Homo sapiens: one gene and its partner. The protein of the gene in region 1 interacts with the protein of each later gene in a pairwise test. Each region holds a gene or a part of one and is shown in the gene's direction. Other genes may lie near its edges.

Evidence for each region. Proteins that work in one complex are often made in the same cells at the same time.
Region 2: the proteins of SS18L1 (region 1) and PAX8 interact in binary tests that used the Homo sapiens proteins (3 or more experiments, as listed by UniProt).

The regions. Positions count from the first base shown.
Region 1 is NC_000020.11:62,167,608-62,174,818, forward strand, and holds part of SS18L1 (calcium-responsive transactivator), read left to right. Parts: intron 1-5,074; coding exon 5,075-5,194; intron 5,195-6,909; coding exon 6,910-7,037; coding exon of another isoform or gene 7,038-7,124; exon of another isoform or gene 7,125-7,211. UniProt on the Homo sapiens protein: Transcriptional activator which is required for calcium-dependent dendritic growth and branching in cortical neurons. Recruits CREB-binding protein (CREBBP) to nuclear bodies.
Region 2 is NC_000002.12:113,268,758-113,275,968, reverse strand, and holds part of PAX8 (paired box protein Pax-8), read left to right. Parts: intron 1-7,211. UniProt on the Homo sapiens protein: Transcription factor for the thyroid-specific expression of the genes exclusively expressed in the thyroid cell type, maintaining the functional differentiation of such cells.

The DNA.
Region 1 (7,211 bases):
TATTGGCTGCAGTGGTGCCTCCGTAAGCCCTGGGAGTCAGCAGGATCTCTGCCATCATGGGCCTGGCCCTGTCCCTTCCAGCTGGAGCACAGGGTTCAGCCTTGTCCATGGCGAGGTGTCCACATGCGTCTGCCCAAGGCTGCCACACTTTGTCCCAAAAACAAACGCAGGATGTGCTGCTCAGCCTTTTAGTGTCTGATGTAGCTACTTTTTTTTTTTTTTTAAAGAGACAGGGTCTTGCCCTATCACCTAGGCTGGAGTGCAGTGGCCTGATCGTGGCACACTGCAGCCTGGAAATCCCAGGCTCAAGTGATCCTCCTGCTTCAGCCTCTCGAATTGCTGGGACTAAAGGCATGCACCACCAGGCCTGGCTTTTTTTTTTTTTTTTTTTTTTTTAATTTTTGTAGAGATAAGGTCTTGCCATGTTGCCCAGGCTGGTTTTGAACTCCTGGGCTCAAGTGCCACCTCAGCCTCCTACAGTGCAGGGGCTCCAGGTGTGCGCCATTGTGCCTGGCTGATAGGTACTTCCGTAGCTTGTTGTGGGTTAGGTACTCTTGCCTTCCATCATTGATGAGAAATTTGCTGAAAAGCTTAGTAACCTCTTAAGGCCAGTAAGACAGATGGTGTGGTTTCCTCCTTGATTTAGAAGCATTTTATTCCATCTGTTTGTTAGACTCTGACATGAGGAGTGCACATACATGGTGACACTTTACCCTACAGCAGGTGGTACTGTGAAGTCTTGCAGGGGTGAGAGGCCTGGAGATGCTTTGCTTTGAAGAGATTGGCGGATGTGTCATAGCCACCTTCAAACACAACTGTGGCCCATGGTGCAGTGGAGAGGCTGGGGGGACGTTAGGAGGAATGGGTCAAAGGCACCATAAAGAACTTTCCAGGCCGGGTGCAGTGGCTCCCACCTGTGATCCCAGCATCAGGCCAGGTGCAGTGGCTCCCACCTGTGATCCCAGCATTGTGGGGGCCAGGGCAGAGGATCACGTGAGCCTGAGAGGTCGAGACCAGCCTAGGCAACATAGTAAGACCCCCTCTCTACTAAAAAACATTAGCCAGGTGTGGTGGCATGCGCCTGTTGTCCCAGCTACTTGGGAGGCTGAGGCAGGAGCATAGCTTGAGCCCGGGAGGTCGAAGCTGTACTTAACTATGATCACACCACTGCGCTCCAGCCTTGGCAACAGAGCAAGACCCTGTCTCAAAAATAAAAAGAATTTTCCAACTTTTGAGTCATCCCACAGCAGGATGAGTGGGACAGGCTGGTGCTGGAATTGTTCCTGGTGACGGCATCAGTCAGGAGCCTGCAGAATCTGATAAAACGAGAGGGTGTTCATGCGCAGGGCACCAGTAATAGGAGGGGACCAGAGTGGGGCTGACCAAGCCAGGAGGGGACAGCGGGGGCCACGGGGTCACTTGTGCTGGGCAGGAGCATCGGGATGTGGTGCTCGGTGGGGGAGGGGCCAGGAGAGGGTGCGAGTCCCGCGTTCGCGTCACAGTGAGGTTTGCAGTGACGCATACTGGACAGAGCGCAGCCCCTCGTGACCTGGCATCTGGGCGCCATTGCTGCTAGGAGAGACCGCCCATGAGCTGCCAAAGCCAAGTATGGAGCTGGGCGCATGGGATGTGCCTCTGTGAAAATGCAGGCAAGAGGAGACTGTGCCCTTGCACACACGCACACTCACACCGTCAGCCAATGGACAAACACCAAAACAACCAACACAAATGCTTCCGGGTAGGAGATGGGGTTAGGGCTCAGGCAGTCCAGAGCAGGGGTGGAAGCGGCCACCTTCCCAGGACCTCTTGAAGGTATGAGTCCGTCTGTATGTACCTTTGAATCATGTAGATGTATTGGCAGCTTCAGAAGTTAAATTAAACATCATTGGGGCCGGGCAGAGTGGCTCACGCCTGTAATCTCAGCACTCTGGGAGGCTGAGGCGGGTGGATCACTTGAGATCAGTAGTTTGAGACTAGCCTGGCCACCATGGTGAAACCCCATCTCGACCAAAAATACAAAAACTAGCTGGGCTTGGTGGCGCATGTCTGTAAAGCCAGCTGCTTGTGAGGCTGAGGTATGAGAATCACTTGAACCCAGGAGGCAGAGGTAGCAGTGAGCCAAGATCACGCAACTGCACTCCAGCCTGGGGCGGCAAAGCGAGACTCCATCTCCAAAAAAAAAAAAGGAACATCATTGGCTGTCACAGAAACTGAAAGGACCTCACTTTATGGCTGTCCACACCGTCCACACCTCCTGGAGTCCCGAGCGCGGCTGGCGTGTCGTGTGCATTTCTCAGGCCCTCGCCAGGTGGTGACCAGCGTGTCCCAGGAGTGGACGACAGGGTGGTGTGGCCGGGGCCTGTGGGACTCATCTTCCCTGGGCAGTGCTGGGGCCGCCTTGGCTGCGTCCTCGTGTGGATCACTGTGTTTTTATGTGACACGGCTTTGAGCGTCGTTCACATGTTCCTCGTGGCTCATTGTGTCCACATCTTGCTCCTTCTGAGGAAGCAGAGGGTGTGCCGTGGCCTCTTGTTTCACACACAGATGCGCCATGCTGCCCGGCACCTTCTCACGGGCACCCCGCAGAATGCCAGAGGATTCTTAGAGAAAGAAAAGAGCTGGGCACGGTGGCTCACGCCTGTAATCTCAGCACTTTGGGAGGCCGGGGCAGGCGGATCACGAGGTCAGGAGATCGAGACCATCGTGGCTAACACGGTGAAACCCCGTCTCTACTAAAAATAGAAAAAAATTAGCTGGGCGTGGTGGCGGGCGCCTGTTGTCCCAGCTACTCAGGAGGCCGAGGCAGGAGAATGGCGTGAACCCCGGAGGCAGAGCTTGCAGTGAGCCGAGATTGTGCCACTGCACTCCAGCCTGGGTGACAGAGCGAGACTCCATCTCGAAAAGAAAAGAAAGAACCCTGGAGTACTTGCTGGTTGTGGAGGAAGGCCCCACATCTGCCCGCCCCGTTGCTGTCCTGTTGAGAGCACGGCCTGGGCTCCCCCGAGCCCTGCAGATTTCATGCAACACATCTGAAAACGGCAAAGGCCTTTTCCACAGATGTCGTGCCCCCTTTCCCTGCAGTTATCTCAGCAGCCCCCTTTCTTTGGGGATAGGGCGGCTGCTGCCAGTTCCCACTAGATCGCCTGAGCACCCACTGGGGTGTGAGAGCCAGGCCTGGTCCCTGTGTGCTGGGGCTGGGTGTTCTGAGCTGGCACTCTCACAGTTGTTGCATACCTGCTGGGTGCCAGGGCAAAGCTGGCCCGTTTCCTACAAACTGGCTCCTTTATTTTTTTTTTTTGTTTATGTTTTTTTGAGATGGAGTCTCACTCTATCGCCCAGGCTGGAGTGCAGTGATGCGATCTCGGCTCACTGCAACCTCCTCCTCCTGGGTTCACACCATTCTCCTGCCTCAGCCTCCCGAGTAGCTGGGACTACAGGCTCCCGCCACCATGCCGGGCTAAATTTTTTGTATTTTTAGTAGAGACGGGGTTTCACCATGTTAGCCAGGATGATCTCGATCTCCTGACCTTGTGATCCACCCGCCTCGGCCTCCCAAAGTGCTGGGATTACAGGCGTGAGCCACCGCACCCGGCCACAAACTGGCTCCTTTATTATGTAAAGAATAAAGTGGGCTATAAAACATGAGAATATGCAGGCTGACCCCCAAAAGCCTGACACCCTTGAAAACCCACTCCCCCATGTCTCAGATGGCTTTCATGGGGGCAGGAGAAAGGATAGTGACCTTAAGTCTTCTCCCGTGACGGTGACAGCTCGTTTGCCAGCTGTTGCTGGAACCGGCCCTGGATTTAGAGGAAGGCGTGGAAGTTCAAGACTCAAGATACTTCCTGGATAGAGAATAACTGGAAAGGCTCAAGTAAGTTTTTCCGAAGCTCTCGCCTTAGGAGGAGTTCAGCCTGGAATAAGAGCGTGTGTTAGTTTTGTCATCCCACCTAACTACAGATTGAATTACCCTGATAGGTTTTTAAGCCATTCCAGTGTGCATTATCTCAATAAAGCTGTTATTTAAAAAAAATACTAGATTGCAGTTTTAAAATACTTAAATTTTACAGCTTCTAAAAAAGGAAAGTTATTTCCAACCAGAAAAGTAAAGTAGAAAATGGATTCTTTGCGCAGAGCATGGTGGCTTACGCCTGTAATCCCAGCACTTTGGAAGGCAGGGGCAGCAGGATTGCTTGAGGCCAAGAGTTCGAGACCAGCCTGGGCAACATAGAGAGACCCTGTCTCTACAAAAGATTTAAAATTACCTGGGCATGGTCGGGCACCGTGGCTCACGCCTGTAATCCTAGCACTTTAGGAGGCCAAGGTGAACGGATCACAAGGTCAGGAGATCGAGACCATCCTGGCTAACATGGTGAAACTTCATCTCTACTAAAAATACAAAAAATTAGCCTGGCGTTGTGGCGGGCACCTGTAGTCCCAGCTACTCGGGAGGCTGAGGCAGGAGAATGGCGTGAACCCGGGTGGGGCGGAGCTTGCACTGAGCTGAGATCTCGCCACTGCACTCCAGCCTGGGCAACAGAGCGAAACTCCATCTCAAAAAAAAAAAAAAATTATCTGGGCACGCTGGCACACACTGTAGTCCTAGCTACTTGGGAGGCTGAAGTGAGAGGAACACTTGAGCCAGGGAGATGGAGGCTGCAGTGTGCCCTCATTGCACCACTGCACTCCAGCCTGGGTCCCAGAGCGAGGCCCTGTCTCTGAAAAAAAAAAAAAAAATTATATCTGCAAAGACCCTATGTCCAAATAAGGTTCCATTCACAGGTACTTGGAGTTAGGACATCAGCATCTCTCTGGGGAGCACATTTGACCCGCGACGCTGGCGTTCATCTCTGTCTTAGTTGTCATATTAACCATTTCGTTTCTTAGCTTTCCATTTGTATTTCTATAAGATAAAGGTGTAGTATAGTATTTGAATGGTTGTGAAAAAATAAACATGCCGAAGCAATGGATTTGGTTTTGGGATTCCAAAGTTACCGTGTCGTGAGTGGGCCACAGAATGAGCCCCCTTAGCCCAGGTGGGGAAAGTCATTTCTGTGTCTCCTCCTCCCTCCAGGAAACTCCCAGTACAGCCAGCAGCAGGCCGGGTACCAGCAGGGTGCCGCGCAGCAGCAGACGTACTCCCAGCAGCAGTACCCCAGCCAGCAGAGCTACCCCGGGCAGCAGCAGGGCTACGGTAAGAGGCGAGCACGGTCCTCGGGGCCCCCCAGCGCCCACCCCTGCCCCTGCCACACATGGGTACGTGCTCAGTACCCCAGCCAGCAGAGCTACCCTGGGCAGCAGCAGGGCTACGGTAAGAGGCGAGCACGCTCCTCGGGGCCCCCCAGCGCCCACCCCTGCCCCTGCCACATGTGGGTACGTGCCCGGTGACCCTGGTGCTCAGGCAGATGTGTAATAAACTTATTTTGAATACCTTTAGGTTTCCAGAAAAGTTGGAAACATCCATGCACGTAGACCTGAAACATCTTATTTTAACTTAAACATAAATTCATTGCCCACGTGGCCTGTGACGGGAGCCAGTGTCCCGTGTATCCATCACCTGCACGCCTCAGGCCCAGCTTCAACCTCTTTGACAGAGCAGGTCAAAGCCTGTGGGTCTCAGCCTTCACTGCAGCTTACAATCACCCAGGAAACTTCTGAAAAATAAGGTGTGGGCTGCCCCAGGTCTTTTGTTGGAGCAAGATCTCAGTTCTCAGGATGAGCTCCACACACGTGGTTTCTTATGAGGCACGTGCCTGATTCTGCTGTGCTTATTCAGCCCTTTACAGCCATTACTAATTAAATAGTATAAAAATTACTTGAGGCCAGGCGTGGTGGCTCACGCCTATAATCCCAGCACTTTGGGAGGCTGAGGTGGGCGGATGACCTGAGGTCAGGGGTTCAAGACCAGCCTGACCAATATGGTGAAACCTCGTCTCTACTAAAAATACAAAAATTAGCTGGGCATGGTGGTGGGGGCCTATAGTCCCAGCTACTCAGGAGATGAGACAGGAGAATTGCTTGAACCAGGAGGTAGAGGTCGCAGTGAGCCGAGATCACACCACTACACTTCAGCCTAGGCGATAGAGTGAGACGACTCCTCAAAAAATAAAAAAATAAATTACTTGAGGCTCAGTGTGGTGGCTCATGTCTATAATCCCAGCACTTTGGGAGGCTGAGGCAGGAGGATTGCTTGAGCCCAGGAGTTCGAGACCAGCCTGGATGACATAGTGAGACCATCTCTACAAAAAATACAAAAATTAGCCAGGCATGGTGGCACACTCCTGTGGTCCCAGCTACTTGGGAGGCTGAGGCAGGAGAATCACTTGAGCCTGGGAGGTGGAGGTTGCGGTGAGCCAAGATCACGCCACTGCACTCCAGCCTGGCTTGGGTGACAGAGTGACACCCTGCCTAAAAAAAAAAAAAAAAATTGGCCTCTATCAGTTCTTGCCGGAGCCTTTGACTTAGCCTTCCTAGAGACGATGTCTCTGTCTCACCTGCCTGCAGGTTTTCAGCAGCTCCCGTGGTAGTTCAGTGACAAGTTACAGCAGCCAGTGTGACTGGGGCCAGCGGGTTCTGGAGGGCTGTCCTGCCTTCAGGTAGCAGCAGTTCTGGGGTGATGGAGAGAGCCCATCAGCCCTCGCCATGCTGGTGGGGGGCCTGGGGCACAGTCCTGGGACCTCACAGGACTGGAGGGGCTGGTGAGTCGGTTACGTGGTGCTCTCGCTGTACAGAGTTAACGTGGAGCCACGTGCAGGTGCCAGGTGTTCTGGAGATTGACAAAAGGCTGATGCATTGAGACGGGAATTTTTCAAGGAGAAGAGGAAGTTTTAAAAAAAATTTTTAAGTTAAGAAAAAAAAAGAAAGAGGTGTCCGTTTTGGCCGGCCTCACGGTTCCTGGTGTCTTCTCAGGGTCTGCCCAGGGAGCCCCGTCACAGTACCCCGGCTACCAGCAAGGCCAAGGCCAGCAGTACGGAAGCTACCGAGCACCGCAGACAGCGCCGTCTGCCCAGCAGCAGCGGCCCTACGGCTATGAACAGGCAAGCTTTCTGGATGTTTCCAGATGTGCCCATCCGCCGCGCCTGTCGAGACATAATGAAGATTTCTCTTATGGCCATGAGGAATAATGAGCTGGAACTAACTGGCTTCCAGGGTTCCTTCCAGAACGTTAAGTCTCTGAGCCTGTAAGGTTTTGCAGAATTGCCTCTGTGTAT
Region 2 (7,211 bases), on another chromosome or scaffold:
TCGAGAAAACCTCCCCGCGCGGCCTCCGCCGCCCAGCCTGCCACGGGGTCGCCTCGTCGTTGGCTGGTCTTGCCTTGCAGAGAGTCTTAACGTTGTCTTTCCTACAGCTTTATTCTGCAGGAATGTTGAACGCGAATCATTTTAACGTGCGCAGGTCAGCGATGGGCTGAACGTTCCTTAAAATCGCTATTTTTGTTGCATCAGGGACGAAATTCTCTAAAGCAAAAACATTTTTAAAAAAATTCAAAGATGCAGAAGAAACGATAAATGCCCCATATATATAAAAGTGAAAACAATACTGTACCAATGAGGAAGAGAGTTTTGTAAAAGCAAGCAGGCTGGCTGTCATTAAAAGTTATCTTAAATAACTTGTCGCAGCCCACTCCCACCAGTCCCGAAAATAGTTCATTCAAGTGGTAAAATAAGACAAGGCAGAGGACGATGTCTCTAACTTCCCTGATGTGAGATCTAAAGCCCCATTCCTAACTCTTGGTTTTAGAATTGAGGAAAGTGGAATAAATGCATTTGGAAAGGATCTGTTTTCTTCCCAGGTTTCCTGCCTGGGTTGAAAATAAGGTTTCAGGGGATGGAAGCAACTTTGAGGAACATAAAGAGGTATTGGGGTTCATCAATTCATCTTTGTTTCAAGATGGTTCCCCCCCACCCTCCACAATGCAAGTTAATTAGGAGATAATTTAGCTACCTTGTGAATTAGTTTTAAGATAAGTATCTTTTTAAGCTTTGTCACTTTAATTGCCCCACTGATTGATAAGAAGTAATTATTTCTAATTGACACTTTTTTGATGTCTATTGGAAGCATTTATTTGGAACTTTTTGGGGGTGGAAGGAAAGTTAATTAATTTTATCAGTCTACCCCCAAAAGGACTCTGCCTAATTTTGTTGAAGAAGACAAAGGAAGTGAAGGAAACCAAATAAAAAATCAATCTCATGGAATTTTAATTACTAAGGGACACTTTGGTTTAAATTAGAGGGCATCTACTAATATAATATGTCAAAACGTTCTATTTATGGCCTCAAATCTCTAATTTATTGAGATGCATTTTATAGGTATTCATTTTCCTATGGATACACTCAACGGCCCTTTATATGCTTCCTTCATTTTGGAGCAGGTTCCTCTGCTGTGTAAATAATTTTTGTGAAAAGTAAAATCTGTCAAACTTGGTATGCCCAGAAAAAATGAAATCATTTTTGTAAGAGCCAATTGTAAGAAAGATTTACTAATAGTCATCCTTGTTCTGTAATTATTGATGGAGTTGGGTATAAAGGTGAAACTTTACTTACAGTGACTTGCCTTTTCATACCTAAACCTTGGAGTAAACAGTTTAATCATTCACATCCTCCAGAACATTTTGCTGTGAGAGAGAAAGGAGTGAAAGAATAAGGAGAAAAAGAAAGACACTGAAAGGAGGCAATGGGGGTGGAAAGGAAAGAAAGGGAGAAGGTAGCTGGAGAGAATAAAATGAAAGCATTCATTTCAGAAATGAAGATAGCCAGGTGCATGGAACCTTTGCCATTCAATATAAGAAAATTGAAATCCTGCTTTCAAAATACATTTTTGTTAACACCAAATCTCTACCACAGTCTCTAAGCAACCCCTAACCACCAAGGGATACCCCCAGTTTTCTACCCCTTAAAAAAAAAGAGGAGAATTTTAGGAAGCTGGCTGATCCGGATCTTGGATATCTGGCTGTCAAAGTCTTTATCTGGGGTCCATGAAAAGGAAGTAAGAAAACGCACATTGTGCTCTGGGATTTATAAAGAGATTCGAGTGTTGTTTATGTTTATTTTATTATTAAAGCCCCTGTGATCTTCATCTCCATTTTGTATGCACAATCTTTTCACAGATCGACTTGTGACTTATTGATATAGGAAAGCATTCCCACATTAACCCAAAGTAGAGACACACACACACGCACACACACGCACGTCTGGAATGAGAGAAACACAATCACACAGGACGCGTTCCTGTCAGGTTAATTTCAGCCAGTGCCTTTTTCAACCATTTATTGTAAAATCTTGCCTGCTTTTATTGATGTTTCTCCCTGATTATGTGGAGCTGCAAGAATGAGGAAATATTTTAAATGAAAAATAAATTTAAGACGTACAAACATCAGATAATATCACATACCAACCTCACTATTAGTGAAATTGAAAGAGTATATAAATAATGCAAAAAAAAATCAGCAAGGGAGAGTTTAGTAATGGAAAATTCCCTGCAATTAAATGAAACAGTAATTTAGTGAAGATATGCCTCAATGAATTAGCATTTATTAATTGGTTCTCATAAAAACAATTTGTGTGTGTGACTTGGGGAGGGGGATGTTTAAAGTATATATTGTCCAGAGATAAAGTTCCTCAAATATTCATATCAAATTATGTCGTTATCACATTCTATTTTGTGAGAAATCCCAAGTCTCTCACTGGCAAGTTACACCTGTACACAGAGAGCTTGAATGCAAAGGAAAGGATTCCCATCTAGATCAAAGAGTAAAGCTGGTTCCCACTTCTCTTGGTACATTTCCAAATGTGAAACGAATGAGGGACACACTGGCAGAGTCTTCTATGCTTAGGAACATCCAAACCGGGCCGCAAGAAGACTCCCTGAGGACCCAGCTCTTCTGGGGCACAGCTAGCTAAGCCAGAGCTAAGCCAGGGCTGGTTTGTGGTTCTGGTCCCCCAGCCTGCTCCAGCATCCTCTCCGGCTCAGGCAGGAACTGCAGTTTGTAATCTCAGCGAGGAGCTTGCTAGGGTTGACTGGTGCATGGATGTGTTTACTTTCTCTCGCCACAGTTGGTCTGTCTTCAGTTCTAAGCATTTTAAAGCTGCTCTATTTATCAGTCCAAGAAGTGCTGAGTTCTCCGTTGAGCTGAGAAGCTTTGAGCTCTATGGTTCTGAGTACACGAGAAGCCAAAAGATAAAAGAAACTGTTTCATTTAAGAAAAAAAATGTTTTAAAAAGTGGGGGCAGGGGAATGAATGAGCCCACCTTCAAGACTGCAGATTAGTTTTGCTTTTGTTTTAGTTGAAAACTTGGTGCACTGCCCCCCTTCGGGTCCTCATTCTCTTCAGAGATAGAATTTAGTATTGAAAACACCCTCTAAGAGAGGAGAATATGCCCTCACGTTATCTTCTCTTAGAGGGTGTAGAGTTCTTTGCGGGAGGGATTCTTTCCAAATGCAGATTGGAACACCTTCTTCGCCCAGGTTCTTCTGGGGAGGGAGCTAACACATTCTGCCTAGGAAATGCAGGCAATGACTACTTTCAGCAGGAGTTCTAGACATTCCTTTCGTGGGGAAGGAGTACAGAGCATGACAATCCAGGAGTCTCTTGGCTCCTGAAAACTCCACTCTGCCACACCAATCCTAGTTCATCCAGTCAGTGGTCAGTGACCCTGGGATGGATGGAATCTCTGCAGTGAGGTGGAGTAGGAAGAAGCATCCACTCGTCTTTGTTTATCTACAGTAATGACACTTTTAAATGGATCTTGAGGATTCATAATTATTTCCTTAGGTCCAGAGTTAGGGCTGACAAGACTGTTTGGGTTGCTGAAAGCCCCTCTAGACCCCTTCGTTGGCCAGATAGAAATACAATGAGCAAATTTCTCTTATATAAGCCACTGGCCAGAAAAATATTCATAGGAAGGCTTCTGTCTTAAACCTGTAATTCATGTAACTGAGTCTGGGCTTTACCTTGCTTGGCTGGTGGGGGTCCTTCCCCAGGAATGAGTCTCGATAGAAACCAGCATCTGTTTACTGAGGCATGTCTAAGATCAAGGGGAAGAAAGTCCAAGAGTCCCCGAAGGATACTTGGGTTCTGTTTCTGTGTTTCTTCCCGTGGACCCTCCATAGTCCTGAATGCCATATAAGATGCCAGCAATCCCTGTGGCTCAGCCAAGCCAGCCTCACAGCTCCTCCTGCTCTGCCCATGTCACATTTACATCCAAAGAAAAAGAACGTCTGCACAAGAGCTGAGCATACCTGGCACTTAGTGAGCTCTCAATGAATGAAAGCTGTGATTCTTCTCTCTGAGGACTGCCACAGGTGTGGTGTGGTGCTGAGAGCAGATGTATTCATCATCTCATTTAATTCTCACAACTCTGCCAGGCAGGTATTGCTACGACATTTTTATAGAAGAGAGGGGAAGGAACTGGTGTTCAAAGAGGTTGATAAGACTCCAATTCCCCTTTCCACTGCTCCCTACCTCAACCACCCAAAGTCCAGCTCATCAGAACTCGGCTACTAGATGATCGACACCTGGAATCCTAGTGGAAACTCCCATCAGAACCCTTGATAAGAAGGCCCAAGTGCCCGTGCTGGCAGTGACAGGCAGAGCCTTCCGTCTATCAGCTTGCTTTCCTCATCAGTGTTCCCCACTCTCCAGTTTAATTAAAATACACCCCTTTCCAGTATGGTTCTCAGTCTTCCCATCTGTGAAATGGAGAAGTGGTTCCTGCCTGGATGCCTCTCCTAGAAGTAGCTATGAGAAGGAAGGAGATGATCAGCCACTTGGAAAGGCAGAGGGAGGGAGGCCTTACTTTCACACATCCCCCCAAGGCTGCCGTGTCTCCATCTGCACTGGAAAAAAAGCAGCTATCCTCAGGCACCACAAGTTGAAGGACCCTGGGGAACTTACTTCCCTAACTTGGCATCTCCCAAGCACACTCAGCCTCCCTGCCTAGGTTCATCTTGGATGTGATGCGAACAGCTTCAGAGTGGCTGGGGAGGCTTCCCCATGCTGTTAGGGGCCAGCACTGGGGGCCCCATCCACAGGCAGCATAGCTAGGAGTGGTGGCCACTGGAGGTGCCGGTTGTTATGTCCCAAAGCTTAGGTTCATCCCCTCTGCCACTTCCTCAGGATCCCTCTCACTCAGGGGCTTAAAAGCAAGGCATTTCTCTTTTGGAGCCTCTGCAGAGGTTCAGTTTTAGAACGTTAGCTTGAAAGAAAGGGATTTTATTTTAATGTTTTCACTTTTTCATGTAGAAAGTAGCTGCTTAGCTCCCGGGCTCTCAGATGAAAACCTCTCTTTGGTTTAAGCAGAGGGAGAGATTGAGAAAGAAAAAATAATTCATTCCTCCCTGCTTTTAACTTTTTTTCGTCATCTTCAGCCACAATACTCATTGGTTTTGTCTTTTTTATTTGTCTTCTTAAATGGCCTTGGGGTGACATGGGTAGTTAGTGCTAATTAGTCCACTAGGACATATTGTGACTGTCAGGGCAGCACAGCAGAAGGGTCCAGGAGCTGGTTGGGTGACGCACCTAAGAGAGAAATGGCTTAATCTGCTGTCATCGGTGTGTACTACAGTGTTCGCGCACACCCAGGCCCTCTGTGTGTTGCAGTTTTGATTCTTCGGCATCTCCAGGAGGACAGTAGAACTTATTATTCTTGGGATAAACTCAGGGGCCATGAGGTGTCAAGAGAATGAGAGGCTTTTGAAATCAGCGTGAAGCCAGGATGAAAGCCCCTGCCCTGCAGGCAGAAGAAGAAGGCAAAGCCCGGGCTTCCATCTTGGCCCAGACCTTGCTGTTTTTGTGTGAACTTAGTCAAGTCAGATGTCTCTCTGGGCTTGTACTTCCCCTTTATAAAATATGGGGATGCTGCAGGGCTTCTGGGGAGTCATGTGAGTAAAACCTGTCTCCTCACCTGGCACATAGCTGCCACTCAAGACAATTTTCTGTGCTCCATGTAGTAGTCACCAAGGAGTGGAGTCTCCAGAACACATTCCCAAAGTCCCATTGTCGTAGTATTTCCTGTGAAACAGCCACCAGTAACTTGCAACCCAGTACTTCGTTCCATTTAAAATTTAGGACAGACTTTTCAATAATTCATGTGGACAAAATAATAGATCTACCACCTAGGAGTACTGGGATTAAATGAAGGGACGCATAGAAAGTGCTGGCTATGACCTCTGCGGCTGTTATCTGCTGTTACCACAGCCTGAAATGGAAAAGGATGCCTTAGTTCACCTTACCAGAAAACCCAGTCATAGGGAAAACACTAAGCTTTTGATAGAATGGCTGTCTGTGGACTGTGTGTTGAAATCCAGAACATTCTAAGGGTTTAATAGAGTTGGTCTTTGAGCAAAAATGAGCTCAAGTGGGTTTGCAGTTATGCTGTGTGTGCGGCTAAGACAGGACTGCAGGAAGACTTGCCTGGGGTACTTGTTTTTAATTGACACGGAATCATATATTTATTTTTAAAAAATTAAATCCACGTATCCTCCACCTTCTGCTTTCTTCTCTCTCCCTCCCTCCCCACCTGCCTCTGTCTCACAATTTTCTACTTTGGGTAATAATAATCCAGCTTTGGCCTGATAGCAAACCCTGGTTGACATTTAAAAGTCTCTGTGATTAGCTGAGCACCAAATCTCTGACTTAAGCTTTGCTTTGCTCCTTTGCTTCAACACTGAGCAAGGTAGAAGGCACCTCTACAGGGCAGGGAGCTGGAGTCTTGCTCTTCCCTTTCAAGAAGGCAGACCCGCAGAACCAGGAGGAAGAATGATCAGACAAAACAACTCAGTGGTAGGAAAAGGACTGAACACTAACAACCCATTCGGCAGGAGCACCAAAGTTCATTTTTCTTGAACAGTCACCCCAGCACAACTATGTTGTGGCTGTTGACAGGTAAACCCCATCTGGCTTTCTCCAGTCTGCTCCTCATTGTTCCAGAGCCAGTGTGCTCCATGACGGTCTACACTGGGGCTCCATCTCAGGGCTGCTGGACAGTTTGTGGCAAAATGTGGCAGGGCTGTAGGTAGAAGTGCCATGGAGATACTTCTGCCAAATGAAAATGCTTACTGGACACTTCCAATGCCTAGGCTCCATGCCTTCACAGATATGCAAACTTTCCCCTCTGTAGGCCTTACATCTCTTTGGCAGTATGAAAAGACCTGGGTCCTTCGAGCCTTGGGGACCTTCCTGGGCCCCCCATATTCCCTGGGGACATGGCAGTACCCCATACCAGGAAGGTCCCCATGGCCCATGGCCCACCCCCACTGCTGGCCATGGGGCTGTCTAGACAGGTGCCCCACACTGTGACAGGCCTGCCTGGGCCTCAGGGCTCCCCCTTTTGCAGGTGGCACCTGCTTTCAAGGGTCCTGCTTACAGTGACATAGCTGCTGTCCTGAGACTCTCCTTTCCTCAGGGCCTGGCTGGGGGCCATGCCATGTCTGCAAAGCACTTGGTCACGTGCTG